4 linked regions of the Homo sapiens genome follow. The protein of the gene in region 3 interacts with the protein of the main gene of each other region in a pairwise test. Each region holds a gene or a part of one and is shown on either strand. Other genes may lie near its edges.

Evidence for each region.
Region 1: the proteins of RETREG1 (region 3) and HK1 interact in a two-hybrid assay, tested with the Homo sapiens proteins (one study listed by IntAct).
Region 2: the proteins of RETREG1 (region 3) and TIGD1 interact in a two-hybrid assay, tested with the Homo sapiens proteins (one study listed by IntAct).
Region 4: the proteins of RETREG1 (region 3) and DDAH1 interact in a two-hybrid assay, tested with the Homo sapiens proteins (one study listed by IntAct).

What each region holds. Positions count from the first base shown.
Region 1 is NC_000010.11:69,314,689-69,321,846, reverse strand, and holds the start of HK1 (hexokinase-1), read right to left. Parts: upstream 3,001-7,158; 5' UTR 2,900-3,000; coding exon 2,837-2,899; intron 2,784-2,836; exon of another isoform or gene 2,670-2,783; intron 1-2,669. UniProt on the Homo sapiens protein: Catalyzes the phosphorylation of various hexoses, such as D-glucose, D-glucosamine, D-fructose, D-mannose and 2-deoxy-D-glucose, to hexose 6-phosphate (D-glucose 6-phosphate, D-glucosamine 6-phosphate, D-fructose 6-phosphate, D-mannose 6-phosphate and 2-deoxy-D-glucose 6-phosphate, respectively).
Region 2 is NC_000002.12:232,543,383-232,546,157, reverse strand, and holds the end of TIGD1 (tigger transposable element-derived protein 1), read left to right. Parts: 3' UTR 1-441; coding exon of another isoform or gene 442-615; 3' UTR 616-1,255; coding exon of another isoform or gene 1,256-1,386; 3' UTR 1,387-1,577; coding exon of another isoform or gene 1,578-1,791; 3' UTR 1,792-2,275; downstream 2,276-2,775. Other genes in the region: CHRNG (acetylcholine receptor subunit gamma precursor), read right to left, coding at 442-615, 1,256-1,386, 1,578-1,791, 2,459-2,573, 2,769-2,775.
Region 3 is NC_000005.10:16,571,962-16,579,012, reverse strand, and holds part of RETREG1 (reticulophagy regulator 1), read left to right. Parts: intron 1-6,910; coding exon 6,911-7,017; intron 7,018-7,051. UniProt on the Homo sapiens protein: Endoplasmic reticulum (ER)-anchored autophagy regulator which mediates ER delivery into lysosomes through sequestration into autophagosomes.
Region 4 is NC_000001.11:85,455,125-85,462,175, reverse strand, and holds part of DDAH1 (N(G),N(G)-dimethylarginine dimethylaminohydrolase 1), read left to right. Parts: intron 1-7,051. UniProt on the Homo sapiens protein: Hydrolyzes N(G),N(G)-dimethyl-L-arginine (ADMA) and N(G)-monomethyl-L-arginine (MMA) which act as inhibitors of NOS. Has therefore a role in the regulation of nitric oxide generation.

The sequences.
Region 1 (7,158 bases), on a different chromosome or scaffold from region 3:
TCAACAGCACCCATTAACCAATTTATGCAGATGCCGTCTGGATAATGGGGTTCCAAGCTGGGAAGTCAGACACCTGAACTGTTTCAACCCAGGATATATTTTTATGGAGTTGAATTATTGATGTGCCTCATAGGCAATGAAGAAAGAAATGACACCATTTTCATGATCACGTTTGGATTCTAAGCAATCCCAAAAACTTCCCCGGCATGGTCCCCAGCTTCCCTTCTCCTACCTCTGGCTCTGAGGGCAAGAAGATAGATGAGAGTTACTGAGGGATGCCAGGTCTGTCTCCAGAGCCCCGGAGGCTGCCTACAGCTGGAGGGCTGAATCATCATGGCTGCCCACGCTGGGGGGGAACCATCCTCAGCAGGTCCCTGCTGGGAGGCAGGCAGAGTCCAGCCCCACAGGAAGAACAGGGGGTCCCGCACCTTCACCTAGCCTTTCCTATGGTGAGTGGTACGTGGAAAGAGCTGGTCTCTAAGAAATCCTGGGCCCCAGAAGAGCAGATGTGGTCCCCAGCATCTGCACACTTGGGCAAAACTGAGTAGGTCACTGGAGCAAGTACCCACTATGTCACTGTCCTTAGAAGGCCCAGGCTGGAGTGCGGTGGCGCAATCATAGCCAGGACCACACCCACAGATGGCTGTGCCACACAGTCCACTATGCAAAATGAGTGGACCCCCTGGCAGGAATCCACGTACTCCCCTATAGAAAGCAGCATAGGAAGTCCGTGGTGAAATGCAAGCAAACATCTTGTTTTTAAGAATCTCCTTGACAAATAATATCTGGTGGAAACCTTGGCCTTAAGACCTTCCTCCAGCAAGGTTCTCGGGGAAGAGAAGGGAAGAACATCAGAATCCCAAACTCGGAGTGAGGAGGGATGGAAGGGTCAACTGAATCACACACTCAGGTACCTACGGGGGCCTAGGAGATAGACTGTGCATCCATAGATGTGAATTGAGCCACCCACAGGAGTGGAGAGCTCTGGGCCCACCCTAGACACTGTATGTCTGAGAAAACATGTCCCACTGAATGGAGTCCAAACCTCAGCCCAGCTCAGCTGCTGGAGGCCACCGGCAGCCAACAGCCAGCAGTCTGTTGTGGGTGGTGGTGGGTGTGGACACTGGAGGTTTACAAGGTCACCCAGGCACCCCCCAGCCCAGCAGCCCACTGTCTTGAGCTATAAAGGACACCACGTGCAGGAGGACAGTGAACTCTTGGCTTCAGGAGGCCTGTTCTGGGCACTTCTTGCCATGCCGGGAGAACTGTCTCCCTGGTCCAATGGGAAGAACATCAGTGATGCACAACACCACTAGAGAAAACTCATGAAATGCACACACCCGCACGCACAGCTCCCAGGTCAGTGGCCAGAGGGAAGCTCCAGGGTGCTCCATAGGAGCAAGTGTTTCGAGTGCCACGGTTTGACAACCCCAGAGTGCTTAAAGCCATAAAGAGCAATGGCAGATGGCATTCCCAAGCCTATCTCCTACCTACCTCACTCCCGGTCCCCACCCACCATGGGATCCAAGATCACGGCAGGGTCCCCAGCGGCTTTGTCTCTCAGTACCCACTCCCTCCTGGAAGCTGACCTCCAGGAGGACCCTGGTGAAGTTCCTGGGTGGAGGCACTGGGAGACCTGGATCCCCCTGACTGGCTCTGCCTCTAACTCACTGGGTGACCTTGATAAGGTCGCTGCCCTCAGTAGGCCTGTTTCCTATGGTGCCAGATGAGGGAGTCATCTTAGATGCACAGGAAGAGGATGGAACACCCTATGGCTTGCCGGGCAGAAAATCAAGGCCTGTCACTCCTGCCTTTCACCTGTAGAACTCCACCTGTCTGAACGCCAAAGTCAAGATGACTTTGCCAGTCCATCCCAGCTAACCCCAGCAATAACGTCACCACGTTCAGGGTGGGTGGGCCTGGAGCCTGTACCAGACCTGGCACTGATAAAACGGGCGTCTTTCCCTACAGCTTAGGCTGTTTCTTTAAAATATGGTAGCACAGCTGGCAGAAGAGACAAATACACCTTTAAGACCTGCCAGCGGACAGTATTTTACACTAAGATGTCAAAGGCAACAACACCTCAGGACAGGAGGATGCATGCGTCCAAGTGCTAGAACAAGCATGCCACAGGCGTCCACCCAACTCAAATGACCAGTCGCTTATTTGAGCTCCTGTGCTGGCTAGAAATTACAGCTTAAGAGGAATAAAAAATTCCATTCAGACGTGCCGCTCCAGACACGAGGCCTATGAGCAAAGTTTCCGGTGGCCTCGCCGCCCCTCCCCGTTCCGGGAAGCCGGGCGGGTCACCTCGTCCTCAGATTAACGAGCAGCTCAAACAACTGGGAGAGCCCGGCGACAGCTTCTCCGGGGCACCCGACACCCTCCGCCAGGAACCCCAAATATGGGAGGCCTGGCCTCCAGCCAGCACCCCCGCCTGCTGCTCGATCACCTCCCCAGCATCTCCATGATCACACCTCCTCCCACGGCGCTCGGACCCTCCCGAACAGGCCCTGCGGAAGGGCCCACCGGCCACCTCCCCGCACAGCCCGGGGGCCTATCTGACATCCAGGGCCCGTTTCAAGGACACTGCAGCAGGCAGCCCGGTCTCGGGGGTCTTCCGCCCGATTGCCCCCCTCCCAAAAACGCACACACACAGAGACACTGACAATGCCGGTAGAATCGAAGGCGAAGGCTTTCCTTGCGCCCTGCAGTCCAACTCGATGCTGGCCCGGAGAAGGCCGGGCGCCGGAGGATGGAGGCAGCGGAGGCGGCGAGCGGATGCCGGAACGCAAGGCTGCGGCCAGGACCAGCGGCGGCGCGGGCGGGGGCTCACCTTTTTGACCTGGTCATCCTTCAGCTCCGTGAAGTAATAGGCCAGGAGCTGCGCGGCGATCATGCTGGCGGTCGGGGTCGCGGGGCGGCAGGCGTGGGGACGGTCGGTCCTCCGCAGCCCTGGCGAGCCGTGGTCCTCCGGCGGCTGCTCGGCGGCTCCTCCTCCTCCTCCTCCCCCGGCTCCTCCCCCTCGGCCCGGGGCGCGGCGACAGCTCGCGCGCTCCCGGTCTCCGCGCTCCCGTCCCCTGGAGGGTGACAGCCGCCAGCCGACCCACCTCCTCCACGCCCATTGGTTGCGGCGCGCCTCTGCAACGCCCGGCGGTGGCGTCCCGGCCGGGGAGCGGGGACGCGGCGGCCGCTCCCTCCTGCGCCGGAAAGGGGGCGGGCGACGCAGCGAAATCCCCCCCGACCCCGCATCATCCTGCACGTCCCCCACGTAGGGAGCCGATGCGGGCCTTCACGCGTGGCGGCGCCGTGCCCGGGTGGGCCGTGCCAGGCGGGGAGGTGCGAGGCGCAGGCAGGAGGCACCGCCCGGCTCCGCCGGGACGAGAAGCCCCTAGGGCTAGTCTAGGGACTGGCAGCCCCGGGGGCACGAAGGCGGTCCCATTCCTCGGAAATGAGGGCTCGCCCCTAGGAGTCCGGTGGACGCCGAGGTGCCGGAGGGGACTTGCAGAAGTGGGCGTGGAAAGCGGGCGGAAGCGGGAGCCGGGGACGCTACGCAGTCCTCGCACCCGGGTCCCGCGCCTTCCTCACCCAGGCCGAACGCACCGGCCTACCTGGGTCTTCAGCGGCAGTGCATCACCTCTCCCCGGCGTGCCCCGCCTAATCTCCAGCTGGCAGATTTGTATTGCTGAACCCAAAGCGACACCCCAGAGCACCCGCCCCCGAGTCACCAGCTCCGGTGGCTCTCCCTCAGGGCGCACTCCCTCTGGGCGGGACTTGGGCCACAGGTCGTGGCCTGTCCCCATCCTCTGGGCCTCCTCTTGCTCTTGGGCATCCAGGCCCACTGGGACTTGGGGCACGGTTCAGCGCCCCTTCCCAGGTGCCGTGTTTTCTACTTTCCCAGAGGAAGTTACGTAGGATGGGAGGACTCCCTAGAGGTGCTACCAGGACAGCCACTTTAGGATTCTTAGATTAATTATTTCTGTGTTCCGGAAGCCTCCAGGAGCTTTAGTGCCTTACAAAATGACATGTAATGAGCTCAAATATACAAACAAGTTGTTGCTATTCTGGTTAGACAGGTAAGGAAATTGAAGCTCAGTGAGGCCTCAGTCTTGCTGGACTTTATACAGCCAGGAAGTTGTAGATCTAGGATCACAGCTTGGATCTGTGAGTCTTTGAAGCAGGTGCTCACCTCTAGGGTTTGCTGTGGTCCCAGTTGTATAGAGCCCCTCTGCCTAAATAGGTCACTTTCCTGCAACCAAGTCTGCACCATATGGTGCCCTGAGATCCAACCCCCAACCTCTACCCTAGCTCTTGACTTTAGGAGTCCCTAGCCCTTGACCAGGCCTAGCAAAGGTACAGTCAAATCAGAGGGAGGGATGACGTAGGTTCAGGGGCCTGACAGCCACCATCACCCACAGAAAAGGAGGAGCTTAGATGCAGTCCTGAGGCCCCAGCTTCCTGTCCAGGTCACAGTCCCCACCCCCTGCCTTAGGGCCTATGCAGAGGGGCATCTTGAATCACCTCTGAGACTGTGTCTTCATCCATAAGATGAAGACACTAATGCCCACCTCACCTCCCCTTGATTGTTGTGTAATACTGTACGCAAAATACGTGCACATAATACACACTTAAGGAATGGCAGGTATCATAGAACTGACTGAAAAGTTAATGCGGTTAAAGCTTCAGGGACTCTCACTTTCATTCCTACCCTTCTAGGCCCTGGGAGGGCCTAGCAGTGTGATATTTGTATATTTATATTTGAATTATTTTCCATAGAGAGTGCCAATTTATTTAATTTTCAAGCCCAACAAAACCTGGATTTGCCCTGGATCATAATTATAAACCAGGAAGAGAGAGATTTTCTGGTACACATCAAACATTTGGAACTACCTACATGGCCGTTAAGCAAAATGGAGTGAATGAGAACAAGATGGTTGTTCTCAACTGCCATTTCATTTGAGTTCTGCAGATCTGCCAAGCTCACAGGGCTGGAAACTCCTTGAGGATGGAGGACTATGTTTTGCTAATTGCTCTGTCTCCTACACAAGCGCAGGGCCTGGCACTTGGCAGGCTGAATAAGCCTAATGCATAATCAAAAACATGGCCCTTAACCCAGCCACCAGCCGGTGCCATCACCCATGCCCAACCCGTTGTTACAACTCCTATCTGAGCTGGAGCCAGGGAGAAGCTGACGCTTGGAAGAGCCAGGTTACCCTGAAATGTCCTGTTTGCAGGCAGGAAAGCTGCCTCTGCTTTGTCTTCCCTGGCCTTTGAGAGGGAAACTGCTTCTCAAGGTGACTCATTCCTCCCCACTCCATGAATGCAACCAGGCCCCAAGGCCTGTCAATATTTCCTGAGAAATGTCTCTAGGCCTGACCTATTGCCACCTCCCAACTCCCAGTCCATCTCCCTGTGCCAGAAATATTACAAGAGTCTTCTAACTGTCCTCCTCGGCTCCTGGCCTCATGCCATCCAAGTCATTCTGAGCACCAGGTCACATTAATCCTGCTAAAATGCAGCATAATCATGTCATGACCCTTCCCTAAATCCCTTCATGGCCCTCTCCTTCCTGAGAGAGCCAATTTAAACATCTCTGCCTGGTTTCCGAGGCCTTCTGTAATCGACTCCACTCTTTCCCACTTATCTCTTCCTCCACTCTGGCCGCAACAAGGCCACTTCCCACCATCCTCTGCCCCCACCATGTCCACTCCATTTGTTCGCCGCTCATATTCCCTTCCTTGCCCTGCCTTCTCCACTCACCTCTGCCTGACCAAGCATCCCCTCTCATCTAAGGCCCAGCTTGCCAACCTTCCCTGGACCACAGCTACTCACCCCAATCTCCCAGGCCTCAGCACCTCGACAGGGCAAACTCAGGCTGTGCTCACAGTCCATCTGGATATACACCCAGACTCCTCTTTACAGGGCAGGAACCTGGGATGCCACAGGTGGGCCATCTTGCCCAGTGTCAGGTTGTGGTAGAGTTTTGAGCCAGGACTCCAGCCTAGTCCTGATGCCCAGCCAGTGCTCTGTCCATCCCACCCCCAACCCCTCATGCAACCTGGGCCTCAGATAAGTAACACTGAGTCATGACTGCCTAACTGATATGGGTGACTGTCTTCTAGGGGGCTGGTCCTATCTGCCCCAATCAGACAGCTTCCTGAGGCCAGGGCCCATGCTGCACTGCTGTGTCCCCTCTCTGTTGTTCCAGTGCTGACTTCACTAATTTCCTTAATAATTTGCCTCTTTTTGCTCTTGCATAGCTCTTAGATCCCTGCTAAGGCTCCTTGACAGTTACTCCCTGGATCCTCAGGAAGACCCCAACCCACAGGGAGTCCTTAGTTCCCTCCCTCTCCAGATGGCCCTCCACTTCCCTTCAAGTCCCCTGAACTCTCTCTACTCATTTACTGTGGTACCTCCTACACAAGTTGGGGTTGGAGTGACCAGTGCCAGGCTGCCACCCCAGGAAACGCACCTGCTTATAAGACAATAAAGGCTGCCTTCTAAGTTGGAATGTCTGTACCAATTCCCATCTGACCCATGGCACTAGGAATGTTACTTCAGGAGTGATCTCCAACAGATAACAGCTGTACCTCCCGCACCTGGGAGCACACTCTGAATAGCAATGTTTACATAACGTTGACAGTTTGCAGAGCAATTTCTCATTTATTGCTTCATTTCTCCTGATAACAGCCTGGTGAGGTTAGAAGGGCAAATATCATTATCTGCACTTAATCAGTCAATGAGGATGTGAAGGTTATAGAGCTTGGGTGTTTTGGTTTTTTTCTTAAATTGAAATGAGGTCTTGCCATGTTGCCCAGGCTGGTCTCGAACTCCTGGACTCAAGGGATCCTCTTGCCTTGACCTCTAAAACTGCTGGAATTGGCCAGGCGCAGTGGCTCACGCCTGTAATCCCAGCACTTTGGGAGGCTGAGGTGGGAGGATCACGTGGTCAGGAGTTCGAGACCAGCCTGGCCAACATAGTGAAACCCTGTCTCTACTAAAAATACAAAAATTAGCTGGGCATAGTGGCAAGAGCCTGTAGTCCCAGCTACTTGGGAGGCTTAGGCAAGAGAATCGCTTGAACCTGGGAGGTGGAGGTTGTGGTGAGCCAAGATTGTGCCACTGCACTCCAGCCTGGGCGACAGAGTGAGACAGTCT
Region 2 (2,775 bases), on a different chromosome or scaffold from region 3:
TTTGGAGAGAGCATCGGCTGCTACTCTTCACACCTCTTGTGACTGCCCTCTTTCAGGGAGAACTTGTAAAAGGGGAGCCAGTCCCAAGTCCGAAGGTATTATACAAAACAGTCCTTCGGGCTTCAGACTGATGGGAATGAATAATGCTTTGCCTAAGTGAGGGGAGTGCACTGAGTGGAGGGGTGGCTGGTGCCAGGATGAGCTAGCCAATCCCACGTGTGTGCTGACTGCAGCAGGACACTAGCCACGGCCCACCCCCAACCACTCTCGGACTCCAGCTCAGACTGTTTCCCCAGCTTTTCTCAGGGCTGTTTGGCTCACACAGTCCTGAAGGGCACTTCCCAAAGAGCACACTTAGGACCTCAGTAGGAGAACGTGGCTGATAAGACTCAGTGTGACCCACGTGTGTGACTCCCACATGCCCCACAGTGGTTGGTTGGCTCAGTCTGGTGAGGGCAGGTAGGGGCGTGGATCTCCAGGGAATGGCAGGGCCGGCACCCGGTTGTAGTGGGCCATGAGGAAGATGCCAGCTGTGCCACAGATGAAGAGCGAGAGCATGGCCAGGAAGCAGACGCGGTCCAGCACTCGGCCCACCAGGAACCACTCCTCATTCCCCTGAGGGTGGGAGGCAGGTGTGGGATAACCAGCGGCGGCACCAGGTCTTCCCTGGGTCCTGTTCTCATCCTTGGGCTTCCAGCAGGCCCATGTCTCCATTTCCTGGGGCCCTTCTTACCTATGTCCGGGTCCCAACTGGTGGCTAATTCCATGGCCCCCTGGCCCTGAGGTGCCCCCCCTGCCCCTGTTCCTTTTTCTTTCTTTCTTTCCTTTTTTTTTTTTTTGAGACGGAGTCTCACGTCTCACTCTTTCACCCAGGCCAGAGTGCAGTGGTGCGATCTTGGCTTGGCTCACTGCAACCTCCGCCTCCCAGGTTCAAGCAATTCTCCTGCCTCAGCCTCCTGAGTAGCTGGGAATACAGGTGCCCGCCACCACACCCAGCTAATTTTTGGTATTTTTGGTATTTTTGGTAGAGATAGGGTTTTGCCATGTTGGCCAGGCTGGTCTCAAACTCCTGACCTCAGGTGATCCACTCGCCTCGGCCTCCCAAAGTACTGGGATTACAGGTGTGACCCACTGCACCCGGCCTCATGTTTTTCCATCCCACTGCCCTATCTTGGCAACCCCACTCATCCTGTCTCTATCACGGTTCCAAGCCCAGGTACTCACTCCACCTCCACCCCACCCTGACTCAGCTTACATTGTCAAAGTGACTCTGCTGGTGCCGGGCACAGGCAATGAGGTTGCAGGCTTCCACACAGGCCTGGATGGCTGGGGCAGCCTGCTTCAGGCTGCCACAGAACTGGCTCAGCCCTAACTCCGGGCCTTTCTCTGATAAAGAGAAAGGGTAAGGTTTGGGAGTAGAATGGAGGAGAAACAGGCAGAGAAGATGGCCTCTCCTTAGGGACCCCAGCTCCTCTCTCCCTGACCTGGGCACTTCTCCAGCACTCATCTGCTGTGCCTGGCTCCCCAGCTGGGGTCCCAGGGGAGGACTGTCCCCAGGCACACCTGGTGTGTCTCACCTAGCTTCTCCAGCGCTGCCGCCACCAGCCCTTGCCGCTGCCACTGCTGGAAGAGGAGTTCACTGCGAGGCAGGCAGAGGGCCACCTCCTCCCCAGTTGTGATCGACCATCCCGAGGAGCCATTCTGTAGCCGGGACTGGGTGTCCTGCACAGCTGCCGGGGCCAGCGGGCGAACGTGCATCCTCAGCAGCTGGGGCAAGAGCCTCAGGAACACCTAGAGAGGGGGTGGCTTCACTAGGGCAGCAGGCCGAGCTTCAGAGCAGAAGCCAGAGGTTGGCGTGAAGGGCTTGTGCTGCTAGGGACCATGGAGGCAGCATACCGGGGCAGTGACGTGGCCTTGGTAAAGCTTTCTATACTGGACACGAGCCTGGGTCCCCAAACTTCAGTGCACATCAGAATCACCAGGGCACTTGTTATAAACACAGATTCCTGCCCCCAGCCCTCATGCTATTCTGGCCTAGAATGCCTGGGACAGGCCTGGGAATCTGCATGTGCAACAAGGGCCCAAGCTGAAGGCTGCAGGTGGGCTACAGATCACACAGACTGGAATCAGACTGCCCTGGCAGACTCCTGCTTTTTCGACTTTGTAGTGCACTTCCTTGGGCAGGTTACTTAACCTCTCTGCGCCTCAACGTCCTCATCTGTAATTGGAGGTGATATGGGTTTTATGAAGATGAAATACATTAACATTTGTAATATCCCGGGCACCTAGGAAGCAATTTCATTCCTGTATTACTGTAATCGATTTTGGTCCATGCGTCCAGATACGCCCAGGATGGGTGTGCTGTGGAATGCCACAGGTGAGTACTGCCGGGGCGTGCGAGAGGGAGGCGTAGGGGAGTGGGCAGCGGGATGTTGAAGTGGGCAGGGAGGGTCCTTGCCTTGCGGACCCCTCGGGCCATGGAGTGTGTGTGTGGAGACCGCAAGGAGACATTGAGCACAACCACAGCATTCACGACAATGAGGATGGTCACCACCAGGAGGAAGGTCAGGTACCTGTCAGGGTGGGGTGGGCAGGAGCTGGCAGCCCATACCATGATGCCACCCCCACGCTTAGTGGCTGCCCCCCCTCAGGCCTCCTGAATTGAGGATGGGGGGGGTGGATGGAGGGCAAGAGGGCAATGCAGGAGGCCATCATGCTCCCAAGAAGGGAGAGTGGCATAGGCGGGTGGACATGAAGACCAGCCTTACTTGCTGA
Region 3 (7,051 bases):
TCTCTTTTCTACCTGGCCAAATCAGATGTCTTTCGAAGTCAAAGTTTAGATGCCACCTTCTCTAGAGCTTTCTCTGGCTGCTTTATGTAGTTACTGGCTCTGTTTTCTGCCCCCACAGCATCCTGAATAGCACTTTGGTTAAACACAGTTGTTTACCTGTCTGCTTTCCTGGCTTTGCAGGGGGAAGGCTGGGATTTAGTCACCAGTGTTTTCCCAGCAGCTAGCCCAGTGTGTGACAGATGCTGTGAATGGAATGAAAACAGAATTCCCTGCCTCCCCCAGTAATAATAGGATGCTGCCGGAAATTGAATGCTGCAAGAAATGTTGAGCTTCCTGGCATGAGATCTATTTAAGTAGAGGTGGTTGATTGCAGCTGAGGGGATTTGTGGATCAGATGAAAGTAAATCAGATGACCTCTGAGCTCCTTCCAGCTCTGTGATTCTGTGACAGTCCTTCTCTGAGTGATGCCACAGCGTGCCAGTGTCAGGATCGCCCACGCCCAGCAGATGGGGATTGTTTTTTGATGTCCTTACAGGCCAGTTTCCATGTAAAGATCGGTTAGAAACAATTTTGTTCAATTACTTTTTAAAGAAAAATTTTGATTTTATAAAATTACAAACTTAAAACTCATTTTTCTTTGAGCTTTCCATTTTAGCTAACAAAACATTATTTTGTTTATAAATCTAGCAAATTGTAACCGTGTTCAAGAGAGTCTGACTGTTTCATTAAATAATAAATGATTGCTTTATTAAGTGATTAGTTTTGTTAGAAAGTTGAGTTATATTCCTTTGAACATTTTAAACTGCATTTGTAAATGTTATATTTTCTATATCCCTTTGAAGTACTTTATTATCAGAATAACTAAGGTTGTGCCAAAGACCTGAGAGGCGACCTGAATAAGACGGGGTAGCTGGAGCATCAGTAAGGATAACTCTGCAGTGACTGAAACACGTCAAATATGTTCAAACTCTTGAGTTCATAATAACAGGAAAAAAAGGAATAAGAAAACGTATGAGTCTGTTTTCACGCTGCTGATAAAGACATACTCGACACTCGGTAATTTATAAAGAAAAAGAGGCTTCATGGACTCACAGTTCCACGTGGCTGAGGAGGCCTCACAATCATGGTGGAAGGTGAAAGACACGTCTTACATCGTGGCAGGCAAGAGAGAATGAGAGCTAAGCAAAAGGGGTTTCCCCTGACAAAACCATCAGATCTCGTGAGACTTACTCACTCCCACGAGAACAGTATGGGAGAAACCGCCCCTGTGATTCAATTGTCTCCCATTGGGTCCCTCCCACAACACATGAGAATTAGGAGAGCTACAATTCAAGATGAGATCTGGGTGGGGACACAGCCAAACCATATCAGTTACCTTTAGAGGACACTAGGGAACTGCTTCACTATCTTGAAAAAACCGGTAAAATAAAGGGAAGAACTCAAGAACTGATGCTGCCTTTCCGACGAGCTCCACCTCTCAGTGTAATTGGACATTGATGAGGGGAAGTTTCTCGTTATAACTGTGATCCAGCTATTACTCGAAGCAGGAGTGAAGGGCCGTCACCCCTTGTAGCCTCTGAGGAATCAGCCACTAGACAGGGATTGTCTGTGGCTGCCAATAGTGCAAGTGTAGCCACCAAGACATCCAGACAGTCTGCGTGTCTCTTGATGGAAACAGGCACTACCACCTATCTTTGGGTTTTAGAGGGAAAAAAAAAAAAAACAAACCTAAGTCTTATCAAGCCTCTAGATCCACGTGCCAACTTATAGGCTACACAAAAGATCAAGGAAAATGTTAAACCAAATCACAAGGATACAACAAACGATTCCCAGAAGCTGGAAAACTTTATTGGAGAAATGAACCTGACAGCAAGGGACCTATAAGGGTCCAGGACACTTAAAATCCACATCTGCCAATTTCAGCAGATGACTTTCTCAGATCCTGTTTCAGTCTGTGTGTGTGTGTGTGTGTGTGCGTGCACACAAAAATGAGTGGGGAAATATGAACCTTGATGGGATATTCGATGACATTAAGAATTAAAGTAATTTTTTAGATGTGATGGTGGTATTGTTATTTGGTTAAAAATATCTTGTTTTTGGCCAGGCGCGGTGGCTCCTGCCTATAATCCCAGGACTTTGGGAGGTGGAGGCGGGGGGATCACAAGGTTAAGAGATCGAGACCATCCTGGCCAACATGGTGAAACCCCATCTCTACTAAAGATACAAACATTGGCCGGGCGCGGTGGCTCGTGCCTGTAATCCTAGCACTTCGGGAGGCCGAGGCAGGTGGATCACCTGAGGTCAGGAGTTCGAGACCAGCCTCAACATGGAGAGACCCCGTCTCTACTAAAAATACAAAATTAGCCGGGCGTGTTGGTACATGCCTGTAATCCCAGCTACTCGGGAGGCTGAGGCAGGGGAATTGCTTGAACCTGGGAGGCGGAGGTTGCGGTGAGCCGAGATCGTGCCATTGCACTCCAGCCTGGGCAACAAGAGCGAAACTCCGTCTCAAAAAATAAAAAAATAAATAAATAAAAAATAAAGATACAAAAACTAGCTGGGCATGGTGGCGTGCACCTGTAGTCTCAGCTACTCAGGAGGCTGAGGCAGGAGAATTGCTTGAACCCAGGAGGTGGAGGTTGCACTGAGCCAAGATTGCGCCACTGCCCTCCAGCCTGGCGACAGAGCAAGACTCCATCTCAAAAAAAAAAAAAAAAAGAAAAAGAAAAAATCTTGTTTTTGAAGATAAATGGCAGTATTTGCAGATTAAATTACATGATGTTTGGGATTTGCTTCAAATAATTTCGGGGGAAGGATGAGCTTAGTGGGTGGGAATATGGAAGAAACAAGATTACCCATGAATGGAGAATTGTTGAAACCGGGTTTATTACACTCTGGCCTCTCTTTTTGTGTACGTTTGAAGTTTACCAAAACAAAAACTTTTTAAAAATTCCTTCATCTAATAACACAAACCCTCCCAAATATTAGGTACTACTTGAAAAATGAATAAACTAAAGAATAAACTCATGTTTGTAAGATTTTAAATTTCCAATCACAAGTCTAAATTACTCAGCTACATATTTTGAAGTGGAGCCCTGAGACAAATCATCTTAAACATTATAAATAATTAAAGTACCAAAAGTGCTCAGATTTTTCTAAATACAGATTATTCTCTTAGGGTTTCGTTTCTCAAACATGTTTATATGACACTAACCCACCAAAGAATCAAATATGTAGTCCCATACAGTTTGGCATTACCTTGCTAAGCAATTGCTGGGCTTGTCTTCTCAGTGGACCGAGGATTCTCGATGACCAACAAGACCTTGGCCAATATGCCAACTGGGCCCTTGCCCAGGACAGAATAGACAGACATCCCGAGTGCTCTTTGGAGTTGCTGTGGCAATGCCTTCCAAATGAAGTCTGGCAGCCAGGCCTGTGGGTTGCAGTCCTGGCATTACCTAATTTTCTTTTTTATTATTCTTGGAAGTTTGTAACTTCCACTAAGAGAATAACTAATGGCCTTTGTGCTTTGGTTGGTTTTGCATTTCATTGGTTTTGAAAAGATGCTTAAATGGCTTCCTGGCCAGCTCCAAAGACTTTTAAACTTGAGGGAGCTTTCTGTCTGTGCTAGGGCTTTGCCTGACCCTGCAAAGAAAGCCATTCTAAGGAAGCATGCTGTTCGAACATTTGCAGGTTCTGTCTCATGCCATGTGAGCCGAGCTGCGCATTACAGCTCATTAGTGGGCCCTGAGTCAGGCGAGTGATTCACAGTCAGCATTTAAACGCGTAATAGAATTGAATGGAAAAAGTTGAACTGCATTATGAATTGTAAGGAAAATATTTTTCAAAACTTGTTTTTCATTTATATGTATGTAAATATAAATGAGTTTCTTATTGTGGGTCACTATGAAATCTGCCACTTCAACGTGAGGTCGGGAAAACTGGGAGCACCCAGCACATGAACAAGAGCAAGAATGAATCCTGAATTGAGAGTGAGGAGGCTGGCCCCAAACCAAGCAAACACCAGAATGCAACCTTGCTTAAAACAAACAAGAGCTACAAAAATAGAGCAAGTGGTGGCTCCTTAGGGGAGGGACAAATTTAGTGGAGGAACAAATGATTGTTGCTAAAGACATGGACTGCGGCATTTTATTCTGTAACTTGTGTCTTTTATGTCTGTTCCATCTTTCTATGCTCCTAATTCACCACTCCCTTTTGGTAGCACAGTGCTTGGTGCAATTAGGCAATCAATAAATATTTATTAGATGCAAATACTAGTAATCAAACCACCTGTTTCAGGGGGCCTGGGAGGAGGAGCCTGGGGCCTGGGAATCTACATTTTAACAAGTTTTCCAGGCAGCCAACCTGGCAGCAGTTGCAGACTGTTATTTAAGAAACACTGACCTAGTCCACCTGCTCATTTTGCTGGCCCAGGCCATACAAACAGCATTTGAACCAGTGAGAGCTTGGGTTGGCCACCTTCTGGTGGAGGGCTCTACCCACCACGTCACCCAGCATCTCATGTTGATCTGCTTTTCACCAAACATACTGCATGACCTTCTAGTAGGTGGTCTGGACTCCATGCTTCCTCCCTACCCCGTCACATCCTTCCTGTTGCCCTCAGACATTTCCCTAAATCACCCATCATTTCACTTCCCTGCTCTATACCTTTGACTTTCTCTCTATTGTTTGTAGCATAAGACTTACTGCGCATTCTGCTTGACACAGTCTTCCCTGATCCTATCTCCCCAATCTTGTCTCTCTGCCAGTCTCTGAACCCTCTTCTTTTGCTTTCTCTTCCTGCTGAGGCACCCCAGATTACTTGATGTGCCACAGGTACCTCACCCTTTCCTGAGTCTGATCTTTGGTTCATGTTGTATTCTCTAATTGGAGGAGCCTCTATTTTCATCTGAGTTGCATCCACCTCCCCAGACCCAGTTAAGTGCCGCTTCTATAAAAACTTCCCAGCCGGGCGTTGTGGCTTGTGCCTGTAATCCCAGCACTTTGGGAGGCCAAGGCCGGCGGATCACCTGAAGTCAGGAGTTTGAGACCAGCCTGGCCAACACGGTGAAACCCTGTCTGTACTAAAAATACAAATAAATTAGCTGGGCGTGGTGGCAGACACCTATATTTCCAGCTACTTGGGCGGCTGAGGCAGGAGAATTGCTTGAACCTGAGAGGAGAAGGTTGCAGTGAGCCAAGATCGTGCCACTGCACTCCAGCCTGGGTGGCAAGAGTGAAACTCCATCTCAAAAAAAAAAAAAAAAAAACAAAAAACAAACAAACCCAAAAAACCAATTAAAAAAAAAAAACCATTCCCTGCTTTGGAGCGAATCCATCCTCCCTCTCCCTGTGCCTCTCCTTGTTCTCTGCACATTTCTGTGACAACACCTAAGCCTTGCCTGCCTTGGACTTTGTGAGCTTGGCCTGTGTTTGTCTGATGAGAAAGCAAGTTTGCAGAAGGCAGTATTCGTGTGTTCTTTACTTCTCTTTATAGCCTTGCAAACAGTCTTAAACATTTATTAAATTAATTTTTCTATGAGTTCTGATTCTATCAAAGTTAATATTCATTGGCAGCTTGGCCAATTAACTTGTGTAAACAGACCTCTAATCTCATGTGAAGGCTCAACGCTCTTTGTGATTTCTTTACAAACACACCCAAAAAAAGCACTGCAGGGTTTGTGTGCTGCTCACGGTCAATAATTTTTAGTTTGTTTCCCTGCAGAGAGGAGGTAGACAGGTAGCAAAAGGGGAGCATGATCTTAAAGCGAAAGAGTTAGCAAAGTGGATCTTCAATAACTGCTTTTTTTTTTTTTTTTTTTTTTTTTTTTTGAGACAGAATCTCACTCTCTCACCAGGCTGGAGTGCAGTGGTGCGATCTTGGCTCACTGCAACCTCCGCCTCCCAGGTTCAAGTGATTCTCCTGCTTCAGACTCGGAGTAGCTGGGACTGCAGGCGCACGCCACCATGCCTGGCTAACTTTTGTATTTTTAGTAGAGACGGGGTTTCACCATGTTGGCCAGGATGGTCTCAATCTCTTGACCTTGTGATCCGCCTGCCTCGGCCTCCCAAAATGCTGGGATTACAGGTGTGAGCCACCACGCCCGGCCAATAACTGCTGTTTTTAAGAGACGAGGGTGGGAGTAGTTAGAGAAGTGAATAGGGCGTAAATGAAAACACAAGACAGGGTGGTGACTAAAGGGCCTCTGTAGTGCAGCCCATCCGTGTCTGTTAGAGAGCCCTGCAGCTTGGCTCTGCAGCCCATCCTAACTCTGTTTCAGGTCACTTCCATTCTCCATCGGCTATTGGAGAAGCCCAGCACTAGGAGCAATATTTTGGTCTATGCCTGAGATAGCAAATCCTCTGCCCGAAATTGGAGGGTAGAGCAGAAAGCTTAGCACAAAAGCGCGCAGGCTCAGACACTTTCATTTTGCTGACTTTGATGCCTATTAAATAACTTTCATGCAGTCACACTGGGGTGATTTTGGAAAGTGAAATCATGCCAGGCACAGTGGCTCACGCCTGTAATCCTAGCACTTTGGGAGGCCGAGGTGGGTGGATCGCTTGAGGACAGGAGTTCGTGATGAGCCTGGCCAACATGGCGAAACCCTGTCTCTACTAAAAATACAAAAATGAGCTTGGCGTGGTGGCTCATGCCTATAATCCCAGCTACTTGCGAAGCTGAGGCAGGAGAATCACTTGAACCAGGGAGGCAGAGGTTGCAGTGAGCCGAGGTAGTGCCACTGCACTCCAGCCTGGGCAACAGAGCGAGACTCTGTCTCAAAAAAAAAAAAAAAAAGTGAAATCATTATTGAATACCTTTTTTGTTTCTGTGGCAGGAAGTAAACCCAATTTTGAAAAGGTTAAAAATCCTCAAATTGAAATACTGATTTGTGTTTCGCTGTTGCAGGTTCCTTGCATTGACTCCATGGAGAGTATATCACCTGATTTCCGTCATGATACTTGGGCGTGTTATTATGCAAATAATAAAGGATATGGTTTTGTCTAGAACAAGAGGTAAGAATACTCAGATTTTATTTATATGGTATTT
Region 4 (7,051 bases), on a different chromosome or scaffold from region 3:
CTCTCTTCCCTTTTATCTGTCTTAAGTTCTCAGCTTACTGTTATCACTATTATTAGCTAATATTTATTGGGTACTTGCCACTTGCCATACACCATACCAGATTTATGATGTGCATTTCATTAATACTCACATCAACTCTTTGAACTCAATACTATCATAATTCCTATTTTAAAGTTGGTGAAACTGAGGCCTGGAGAGATTAAATAAATTGGCCAGGGTTATAGAGTGTAACCTGTAAAACCAGGATTTGAACTCGGGTTTAGAGAACTCCAAAGCTCTAGTCCCACTTAGACATCACTTTTCCAAGCATGGAATTGGTTCTCCTTTTATGAGCTCCTAAAACGCTATAAACTTCCTTTTATATATATCATACCACGTGATAATTGCCTGTTTACCGTTCTGTATCTCCCACTATTATGTAACCTGTCAGGGCTAGGATCATGTCTGTATTGGTCAACATTTTGTCACCAAGGCCTTGTATACAATAGGCATGTAGCAAATATTTTGTTGAACAAGTGTTCTCATTATTTTAGATTAACCTTAATTCTCCCTCCTTATGACATATTTGGTGTTTCACAAGCATTCCCAATCAGTAAGGTCCCAAAAGTTCTATTATGAACGTAGGTGGTTTATAGCTGTTTCTTCTTCTCCCTTTCCCTGTCCCTGCCTCTTTCTATTGTTATTGTTGTTTTGTTTGTTTTTATAAAAATCTTGAGAAATTCCTTCTTAATCAAAACATCGTGTTTCATTTAATGACTTTTCTTCCTTGGAATTCAAGAAAGTATTCCTGTGAAAGCCCAGTGTTTGCCTGAATGGGGCCTCAAAGATTAATAAAACACAGGCCCTGTGTGCAGGAAGCCTAAGTTTTAGTGAAGGAAACTGTATTTACAGAAAGTCAGTAAATAATGTTAATTGTCTAATAATGTTGTATCTTTAGATTTTGAGTATTTTTTATGTTTAATACTTTAAAGAAAAATAAGCCGTTAGAGGCCTATCAAATTTTACATGACTCCAACTTACTTTTTAGGGAAAAAATGCAACTTCTCTGTTTGTTTGTTTTTAGAGACAGGGTCTCACTCTGTCACCTAGGCTGAAGTGCAGTGGCATGATCATAGCTCACTGCAGCCTTGAACTTCTGGGCTCAACAATCCTCCTGCTTCAGCCTCCCAAAGGGCTGGGATTACAGGCACGAGCCACTGTGCCTGGCCAAAAGTCAATGTTTAAATGTCAAATAATGTAAACAAATAATCTAAAAGATGATGTAGGAGAAATAACAGGGTGTGAGGATTGAATTTTTTAAATTAAAACTTTTGTGTAGATAATTAATGCCTACAGTGCCAAAATCAAAAGGTACAAAAGGATATGCAGTGAAAGTGGGTGTTGCCCTTCTACGCCCACTCTTGCACCTGCCTAACCAGTTCTCCTCCTTAGAGGCAACTACTAATGCCAATTTCTTGAGTTTCTGTCCAAAGGTTCTTAGTACCTAATGAATGATTAACTGACAAAACTTAACTTAAGCAAAATTGCAAAATATATCCTGTTTTGCAAAAGGCCCTTTTGCCCCTTTACTTTTTTTTTAAATTTATTTGTCATGTACCCTGTTGACTAGGATTGCTCCTTTTTAACAGCTATTTTATCCTTTCCCAGGTACCAAGTGTTAGTATGTGGGGTAATTTTGTCTTGGAGAAAACCACACAAATGCATTCTTACAAAGTGATAATAGCTTTAATTATTGTTTCCTTGAGCTTTTGCATTTGTAGGGGCCTCTTCAGGAAGAAGTCAATGCTTAGCACCAGGTAATAAATCCCAAAAGTGGAATTAGGCATCAAATGGGGGAATGGGGACATAAATGGAAGGGATGGGGAATATAATTTGGATAGATGTTCCCCTTTTATTAGGGTACTTAGTAGGACCTATATATTTTGGTTCTGGGTTTATTCTCTGGTTAGGAAAAAGCCTAAATATGTTCATCCTGGAGGCAAGTGAACATCAAGATAATGTCTAATAGCTATAGCTAACAAATGCCAAGTTTTTGAATGTGTGTGAATCCTAAAAGGTGGTATTATTAACCCTATTCAAAAGATAAGGAAACTGAGGCTCAGGTAACTGAGGTTAAGTGACTTGTCCAAAGTCATACACAGTAATAAGTTGCAGAAATGAGGTTTTTATGAAAATCTGAAGGTCATTTTTTGCATGAAGTGCTTGTTGCCAGTTGCGGTTAATCCTAACATAACATTAAATCTATGTAGAATAACTACTTAAATCCCATTTTACACATTAGTGATATGCAATCTAACTCGAACACTAAGTGAATTATTTTACTTCCCTTCTCTCGTAAATGAGAATATGTTGTTTTCACTTTAGTTTAAAAATAACAATTCAGTCATTTATATAACCCCCTAAATGGCCTAGGCACAGTTTGTGCGTAATTGTATCTTATTTACCAGCATAGTGGATGATTGCATTTTTAAATGCATAAATTTCCTCAAACTTCTGTTTAGTTTCAAGTGAGAAAGCTGCCCCAAACCATAATTAGAAATTATTCTGACACCAAGATGGAAAGTGAATGTGCTGGAGGCTCTTCACATGGCAGCAGATTAACAGTTCTTGATAAATCATCACCGCCAACTAGTTAGAACAACTGCTCCTTTTCAGGATTTTTTTTTTATTGTTTTGACTCTTCTACATGGCCTTGGCAGTAACGTTTGGAAATTGATGTGTCCCAGAGACTGGGATGCATCCAATAATGTAGTCTCTTCCTGTGCAGCTGATCTTGAAAGCCTTGAAAATAAGGAACAAAATGACTAGGGAGTGACTTCTATTAGATACTATTAGCTGAAAATGAGCTTTCTGCAGAGATTCTTAGACTCATTAGAGAACCATTATAAGACTAAGAAGGCAGGGCTAGATCCCTTGTAATTCAGATATGCTGGAAAATTGCCTTTGCATGTATTTGAATTCTTATTAAGCTCAGATTTCTTCAAAATTAGTTTTTATTATAATAATGGTAGGTATCCATCCATTAATATAAACCACAAAAACAGAAAAATCTACTTACAACTTTTCAACAAACAGATTTACCTTCCACTGCCTTTGTGTCATAAGTAAATTGTTTGTGGCATCTTATGATTCTCAATATAAATTTGGAGGTGCATGTTTTAAAAATGAGTGCTAGTTATTAATTTTATGGGCTTTTGCTACTAAAATCTGTAACCATTTCAGAAAGCCTCATTTTTTGACTGGAGATCTGGATATGTGTAGTGTTCCTTCCTGCTTATCAAGGGAGTACCATAATTAAAGAGAAAATGACTAAAACCTTAATAAGAGAGAAAAAAGTTTCATTTATATCTTATACAGAACATAGTGCAGTATTTATTTCAGGTTGTCCATAAATATTTACTTACATAACTGAATCCTCTGAACTTCCATCAAAATATTCCCCTGACCTTTGAAGTTAGCTTCCATCACTTCCCCTAAACTGATATTAGATATTAAATCTGTCAGACATCTCAGGCTCATTTCATAAGCAGGGGCTTTTCATCTGAATGGACAAGCAGGCATAATCTCAAGCAACAAATCCCATTTTAAAATGTGTGTGTGGTGTCTGTAGTCCCAGCTACTCAGGAGGCTGAGGCAGGAGAATCACTTGAACCCAGGAGGTGGAGGTTGCAGTGAGATGAGATAGCACCACTGCACTCCAGCCTAGCAACAGAGCAAGACTCTGTCTAAAAAAAAAAAAAAAAAAAAAAAAGTGTGTGTGTAATGTCATCCTAGTTCACTTTGTCATTATCAAGTAATTTAATAATGTACATCATTTTCCTGAAGCTGATGCTGCTGAAGGAGCAGTAGCATCACATAGAAAGGAATAAATCACCAGACTTTAGACTTTTGTTGCTAAATGTTTAGATTATCCAAGCAACTATGACAAGAGGAATCAGCATGAAAAAGTACAAAGAAAAGTACAAACTAATACAGGGTTGGTTTAATTTTGTCCAACAAATCAGTGTGGACAAGAACCCGACTTAGTTTAGGTTAGCAAATTAAAAGGACTATATCATTTAAGCTGCTTTTGCAGCTGGATGGGCTTATAGGGGTAAGTTATCATTCCAGTGAAGATACATACATCAGCATTTTCCTCTGTTTGAATATGTGTAAGTAAACCTTTGCCTTTATTAAAAGACGTTTTGGGCTGGGTGTGGTGGCTCACGCCTGTAATCCCAGCACTTTGGGAGGCCAAGGTGGGCGGATCATGAGGTCAGGAGTTCAAAACCAGCCTGGCCAACATGGTGAAACCCCCATCTCTACTAAAAATACAAAAATTAGCTGGGCGTGCTGGCAGGCGCCTGTAGTCCCAGCTACTCGGGAGGCTGAGGCAGGACACTCACTCGAAACGAGAAGGCAGAGGTTGCAGTGAGCCAAGATCACGCCACAGCACTCCGGCCTGGGCAACAAGAGCGAAACTCCGTCTTCATCCTTTTGCCTTGATTCTGTCGTCATTATTTTGCTTAAGAAATATTAAAGTTTTCCAGTTTTTGTGTGGCATTAATTATGAGTGCCATGATTGCGTGAAAAATGACTGCTTTTGATAGTAAAGGGATAATAGTTGTGTTACTCATATCTGTTAGTACATTCAATAACTGTCTATTATGTCCAGGCTGAATGTTTGGTGCTGGGGAGATACAGATGAATTAGACACTTCCACTGCCCCTGAGGATGTCACAGTCCAGAGAGGGAGGCAGATCAGTGACAGACACTTGCAGAACACGGGGGCAGATTTTATGACAGACCTCAGCCCAGTGCCATGGAAGCTCAAGAAGATGTGTCTCACCCACACCAAGGCTTCCCAGAAGGAGCGATTATTGAGTGAGAATTAACCAGGGGAAGGCAGAGAAGAGCAACCTTCCAGATACAGAGAACAGGATGAGATAAGATGGGGGTAATAGTCCAGTGAAGATTAATTTTATTAATGTTGAGAAGATGTAGAATTGAGAAAAACTCACCCGTGCCCTCTCAGATCTTTTGAAATTTCAGATCCAATTCCAAGTTCACCAAAAGAAACAGGTACAGAACTGTATTACTTTGTTTTGGGTCTAGAGGGATTTGGCCACTTTGCACACTTCATTTCTAAGTGTACTTCCCTCTTACTCTTATCCACATGCTCCATAATGGTCTGGAACCCCTTCTAGGATTCCTGACTGGCACAGTTTGGGAACAATGTAGCCCACTCTGGAGTTGACTAAAGTCTACTTTAAGTCTGAAACTTAAACATTTCCTGAGTTTGCCATTTAGATTCTGGTAAGGCACTTTTTTGGTGGTGGAGGGTGGGGGGGTCCTGTAAGTTATCAGTATATTCTTTGCTGGGGGTTTTCCCCCTTGACCCATAATTTGTTACATGAGGGTGTATCAGGAAAACCTGTCATCTTGTAGTATGTAGTTATATACAGATGCTCCTCAACTTATAATGGAATTACATCCGGATAAACGTATCTTAAGTTGGCAATATCATAAATTGAAAATACACTTAATACTTGTAACCTACCGCACGTTGTAGCTCACGCTACACTACCTTAAACATGCTCAGAACATTTACATTAGCCTATAGTTAGACAAAATCATCTAACACAAAGCCTACTTTAAAATAAAGTATTGAATATCTCATGTAATTTATTGAATACTGTACTGAAAGTGAAAAACAGAATGGTTGTATGAGTACTCAAAGTATGGTTTCTACTGAATTCATATCACTTTTGCACCATTGTAAAGTCAAAAAATTGAAAGTTGAACCATCATAAATTAGGGACCATCTGTACATTACCCATGTCAATGACAAATAAGACAAAACTAATTTCTATTTGCTGTTGAAATTATTTTTATTCACAAATCTCTCCATCTTGACATTAGTCACCATTGAATCTCAAGTGCAGCGTAAACTGAGAATGCATCTATAATTATGGGTTGAATTTTGCATGAGCTACAGGAGGCAGCCAGGTGGGGATACCCACTGTCCTGGGGGCAGGAGACACTGGTTTTGATTTTTGCAGTGATATTAAGATCAAATAGCTGAGGGATTTTTTTTTTTTCTTTTTGGAACCCGGGTTGTAGGGGAGAGAAAGTGTAGGGTGGGAAAGAGATAAGAAGATGGGAGAAAGTGGATGGGGAGCTGATGATAACTTACATTTGTGAAATGGAATTGGAGTTTGATAAATAAAAAATACTGATTTTATTCAACCAAAGACATTATACTTTTTCTGCTTAATTAACTAATCATATGAACTCATGCCTTGTTAATGATAATCCATTATGAGATGCAGTTGAATTTGCTAAATCTATTTCAAAAGCTCTGCTTACTCAACCATTTATAGCACATTTGACAAGTAATTTTTTCTATAGAAGACTTTAAATAAAAACCATTGAAATAGTGTAAGATCCTAGACCCACATACTGTCTGCCATCACACATCACTTTCCTCAGTGTCTGTCAGTTGATGTTTTTGTGTGGTGAATGTGAACCAGTGGCCTGAAGAAATGGAGAGTAAATGGTGATGAGGTATTGCTGTAAGTTGTGTTTTCTGTTATAACTAAGTCTTGACTTACCCATGGTAATTCTTTCTTACAAACCTTCCATATATGTGTGCTGGTTTCTATTCCTGATGCTGAACTGTTAGTTTTCTAATATTTAACTTTTGGCTTCCAAAACTACATGAAGTTATTTTTCTAAAGAAAGACAAAAAAAAAGAAAAAGATACCTACTTAAAAGTAGCCTTCCTATAATTAGCTGTGTACACATGTTAGCCAAATAAGGTATAGATGTAGTCATTTTTAGCCTGAAATGATTGAAAAAGGTGAAATTAATGAATTAATCTTGGTGCAGTTTCAAAATAGTAATGGAAGAAAAACATAGCCATTTTATTCTTTTAATTATTTTTTTCAGTCATAAGGGAACCATCATTTCAGGAAGAAAGATTATTATTACTACAGTTTGGCTTTAGGTCATATTTTAGGCCATTTATGATGTAATCATATTTTCCAGCTCAAGAGTTTTGTGTGAAGAG